2 separate regions of the Homo sapiens genome follow, and region 2 is linked to region 1. A link means that fine-mapping ties the variant in region 1 to the expression of a gene that starts in the linked region. Tissue or cell type: whole blood. Region 1 holds a variant in brackets; the other region holds the start of a gene. All regions are shown on one strand. Distances are from middle to middle.

What was found. PIP is the estimated chance that this variant, and not a neighbour inherited with it, causes the effect.
Region 2: ZNF717 starts here. The variant in region 1 is fine-mapped to the expression of ZNF717 in whole blood (TOPMed, PIP above 0.99).

The regions. Positions count from the first base shown.
Region 1 is chr3:75,408,579-75,411,264 of GRCh38, forward strand. No RefSeq gene overlaps it. Among named protein-coding and RNA genes, the nearest start is that of LINC02018, 25 kb to the right of the region's middle. The variant C/T (reference allele first, on the strand shown) is at 1,280.
Region 2 is chr3:75,784,025-75,786,710 of GRCh38, forward strand. It overlaps ZNF717 (zinc finger protein 717), which reads right to left and starts at 1,525. Exons shown (of 5, transcript NM_001290208.3): 1 at 1,360-1,525. RefSeq lists an enhancer at 1,638-1,787.

The DNA of each region.
Region 1 (2,686 bases):
TAAGATTGTCCCCAGCCCACAAAGTGCAGAGTGGAAGCTGCTGAGCTGGGAGGGACATATTCTCCATTCAATAACCCCTCTATGGAGCCTCTAATGCAGCATATGGAAAAAGCCTGTCACCGTCTCCCAGCAAAAACTCCCGGCCCATAAAATGATCTTGACACCTGAAATACCCATGCTGTCTCAAGTGACATCATAGAAACACTCTAATGAGGCTGGGCACAGTGGCTCACACCTGTAATCCCAGCACTTTGAGAGGCCGAGGTGGGTGGATCACCTGAGATCAGGAGTTTGAGACCAGCCTGACCAACATGGTGAAACTCCGTCTCTACTAAAAATACAAAAAATTAGCCAGGCATAGTGGTGGATGCCTGTAATCCCAGCTACTTGGGAGGCTGAGGGAGGAGAATAGCTTGAACCTGGGAGGCAGAAGTTGCAGTGAGCCAAGATCGCACCATTGCACTCCAGCCTGGGCGACAAGAGCAAGACTCCATCTCAGAAAAAAAAAAAAAAAAAAAAAGAAAGAAACATAATAAAACAGAAATGGTTTATACAGCATCATGCTATGTGGGGAATGCAGGGATGAGATATTCCCAAGGAGGGAACCTCTTTTCTCCTACGACTGACTGGAACAGTGAGGAGCTGCTGGATTCTATCAGCAGTTCGACAATGCCCTATATAACCAGCTCTCAACTCACTCACCCCCAGTTGTTTGGTCTATGGATGATAATTTCGAGGTGAACAAACAACATCCTGTTTGGAGGGCTGCTACTCTGGCTAAAGATGATAAAAATCAGTCTGCTCAGTGAGTTGAATTGCATGCTGTTTTCCTTGCTGCTGATTTATACTAGAATGATATCAATAACTGATTTTCAAAGAATCATGGTGTGTGTTCCAAAGTGTTCTACAGGAGTGTGATATTGTGAAATATATATTTGATCAGTCGAACAGTGGTAGAAGCCCCGTGTTTGGGTTTTGACTGACTCCTGGGCAGTGACCAGTGTCTTGGCTGTACACTCAGGCAAGAGGGCAATAGCCACCTGGCTTATTAACGGGATATCCATATGGGGCACAGCCCTGTGGAGATGGGAAAGATGTCTTGAAGTAGAACAGGTTCATGCCCATCAGAAAAACTCCCTTCCAGGCTCAGGAGGTGGCTGGGGTCACCAAGTGAGATTTTTCTGTGTGCTCCTGTGAGGTGGTCACCTGGGTCCATGAAATGAGTGAACAAGGTGGCTCTGCAGCAGTGCAGAGATGGGCTAAATCTAGCCATGACCCT[C/T]GGGCTCAAAATGCCAATAACTATTCTGTCACTGGGTGTGGTGGCTCAAGCCTGTAGTTCCAGCACTTTGGGAGGCCGAGGTGAATGGATCACCTGAGGTTGGGAGTTCGAGACCAGCCTGACCAACATGGAGAAACCCCATCTCTACTAAAAATACAAAATTACTGGGGCGTGGTGGTGCATGCCTATAATCCCAGCTGAGGCAGGAGAATTGCTTGTACCCAGGAGGTGGAGGTTGCGGTGAGCCGAGATGACGCCATTGGACTCCGGCCTGGGCAACAAGAGTGGAACAACCTCTCAAAAAAAAAAAAAAAAGGAAAAAAAAAAGAACTGTTCTGTCTGCCAGCAAGAGAAAAGAGACTGCCCATGGCTGTGAGGCACATTCCCTGGTGGGAAAGCTCTTAGCATAACTGGCAAGTGAGATGGATGCTGGCAGCCCTGGGGGGCTACATCTAGGTCTTGACAGGAATAGACGCTGTCTCTGGACTGGGCTTTGTTTGCATGGTAGAAGATGCAAATACTCAGAGTGCCATTAAAAAAAAAAAAAAAGGCCAGGCACGGTGGCTCATGCCTGTAATCCCAACACTTTGGGAGGCTGAGGTGGGCAGATCACCTGAGGTCAGGGGTTCAAGACCAACCTGGCAAACATGGTGACACCCCGTCACTACAAAAATACAAAAAAATTAGCCAATCCCAGCTACTCGGGAGGCTGAGGCAGAAGAATCACCTGAACCCAGGAGGCGGAGGTTGCAGTGAGCCGAGATCGTGCCATTGCACTCCAGCCTGGGAGACAGAGGGAGACTCTGTCTCAAAAAAAAAAAAAGAAAAGAAAAAAAAGAAAAGAAAAAGGGGAAAAAAAAAACAGAACAGGAGATACTGCATTAATCTTGATGGCCAACGTCATTGCTTCAGAAAAAGGAGCACTCTATACAGCCCATAATGTCCAACAATGGGCAGACAGGCATCCACTTCAGAGTCATAATTTGGCACAGAAGTGGAAGAGGCAATTCAAACGCTGGTTGTCTAAAACGGGGGAGGTGAAAGCAGGAGGGCTGGTGATAGAGTTTGGATCTGTATCTCCGCCCAATTGTGTGTTGAATTGTAATCCCCAGTGTTGGAACTGGGGCCTGATGGGAGGCAGTTGGATCATGAGGGCAGGTTTCCCATGAATTGTTTAGCACTATTCTCTTTGGTATTGTACTCACGATAGTGAGTGTGTTCTCATGAGATCTGGTCGTTTAAAAGTATGTGGGGCCGGGCGTGGTGGCTCACGCCTGTAATCCCAGCACTTTGAAAGGCTGAGGTGGGTGGATCACCTGAGGTCAGGAGTTCAAGACCAGCCTGGCCAACATGGCAAAACCCAGTCTCTCATAAAAATACAAAAAGTAGCCAGCATGACGGCGGGCG
Region 2 (2,686 bases), 380 kb after region 1:
TGCAAATATCCATTGGTTCTTGCCTTTTTGGACACAGTCATATTGTGAGGAGGTCTGGAGCTACCCTGGTGGAGACACAGGGCCTAGCCAAGAGTCACCACAAACCGCCAGATTGTGAAGGAAACTATCTTAAACCAACCAGGCTCAGTCAACCCACCATGTGACCAAGGCCTCTTTTGTGATCCAGGCAACATAAATATATCAACTACCCAGCTGAACCCACCACACCAAAATGCAGATCCACAGAACTTCAAACAAATAAAATGGTGGTTGTTTTTTATAAGCCAGTAAGGTTTAATTAGTTCCTTAAACAGCAAGTATTAACTGTTACACCTAAGTGAACAGAATTCAATATGTTTTTAACAAAATTACGTAGGGGGAGAAAGTCTTAAATTACAAATCAAATACAATCGATAGAACTTCACAATCTAATGCTAAAGCTAAATTTGGTGATGGACTAGGTTTAATATATCTCAAACGCTGGAAACAACGAGGAAAGGTTGAAGGAATGGGACTGTGTTTGGAGAGTATTTTAATCTTCTCAGGTATGACAGGTCACTCCTGTACCCCAGACCACACTTTCAGGCCCCTTCAAATAAGGAATATTTCCTAGGTCCTTGCCTGTTCTTCTCAGCCGAATTCACCTCAACCTTCTGAAAGTTCGTCCAAACCTACCACTGTCACCTAGTCTTTGCAAATCTTGTGCATTCTAGGGAGTAGAATTAATATTTCCCGAGCGAGGAAAACTGGGATCTTCACCTGTGACCTTTTATCCTCCTCTGAAGCACCAGTGGGAGGTTAGACCAGAGGGCTGTTCTTTCAAGTGCGCTTCTTATTCATAGGGAACCCTCCCTTTCAAACCTTATAACACACGGTTAAGACTGAAGTACCCTTAAGGCTGAAGACCATCATCCAGTACCCCATCTCCCTCGCGGCATCAGTGAGTTCTTCCCTGGAAACTAGGTCTCGTATAAACTTCTGTAAACGCAACCCAGGAGGACTAGGCAGGTCACACAGTGAAGGAGGGAACCAGAAACTTCACTTGCTAAAGAGACACCGGGAAACCCAACTAATACAAACGCCCAGTTTAAGACTCGAGGCGCACGCGTTTCGCACTACTCCTCTGGGAATGGGGAACGTCTCCCGAGAACTGTGTGTTCGCACTGGGACAGATGGGCAAACTGAGCGTCATGCGGGTTGGTAACCGGCTCCCTCAGCGGCAGGACAGGAGCGCGGCCTGCAGACTCCGGGCCCAGGGCCACCGGCCTCGCCTACCCGCTCCTGCGCCTCTAGAACCCGCTTCACTGCCGGGACCCCACGCCTGTCCTCCCAGCCCCCGCCAGGGTCCGCGGCCTGCACCTGCACTTCAGGCCCTGCCCGCCCGCGATGCGCCCACGCGTCTGCTCCCACAACTGGGGAACACTGGTCCGGCCCCCCGGGATCCCCCGGGCCCACGGGTTCCTCTTCGCCCTCGCACCGACCCGCAGGGACATAGAACCAAGCCCCAGGCTGGCCCAGCTACAAGACCGCCTCTGGGTGCCGCACTTCCGGAGGAAAATGGCGGAGTGGGCGGGGCGGCGCATGCGCAGAGAGAAAAGCTGGTTCCCAAGGTCCTTGATGGTAACATCATTGGAAGGTGACACTACATTTCCCATGAGGCTCTGCGGTCCCCGGTTAGGAACCCAAGCCGGACATTCTGTTTTGCCCAGCAGTGAGTCCAGTTACCCAGAGACCCGGACTTAATGGATCAGGACTGGTCCCTACCCAGGTGACACAGATGTGGCATTCTGGTTCTTTATTAAATCCTGGTTTCACAGCCTGGCACATTGTGAAAATAATGGAGAAATTTCAATAGAGGCCAATTGGTCTATGCTATTAATGAGTAACTTTTTTTTTTTTTTTTTTTTTGAGACGGAGTCTCACTCTGTCACCCAGGCTGGAGAGCAATGGTGCGATCTCGGCTCACTGCAACCTCCGCTTCCCGGGTTCAAGCGATTCTCCTGCCTCAGCCTCCTGAGTAGCTGGGATTACAGGTGCGCGCCACCACACTCACCTAATTTTTGTATTTTTAGTAGAGACGGGGTTTCACCATGTTGGTCAGGCTGGTCTCGAACTCTTGACCTCGTGATCCGCCCTCCTCGGCCTCCCAAAGTGCTGGGATTACAGGCGTGAGCCACTGCGCCCAGCCCTCAAGTCTATTTTTTATAAATGCATTCGAAAGCATGAAAAAAATCATGTCTCTATTTTACTTTAAAATTTTAAAAACACAACTAATGAATATGGTAATTCTCTTCCAATCCGTTATCTTTTCTCTCACTAAACTAATTTATAAGCCTTCAATTTACACAGTTACAAAAAATGCTCTAGTGCATATACTGGGATAAAATAACAGGGTCATAAGACAGGTGCACTCCATAATCTTTGTGACAACTTACACTTCCAGTGTCTGATAAATATTTGCCCATAAACTCCCACGTTTCATCCATCCACCAATCAATCAAATCTAGCTATCTTTATTTATTTATTGTGAGAAAGACCTGAACTTTGCCTTTCCTTCCCTGATTTCTGCCACAAACTAGGCAAGGATTTCTGCCTAGGGGTTTCTCAGAGCTCCGGCCACCACCGAGGTTCCTAACAGGGAAACGCAAGCTTGAATGCTCAGGGTTGATGTGGGAGTGCGTGTGAA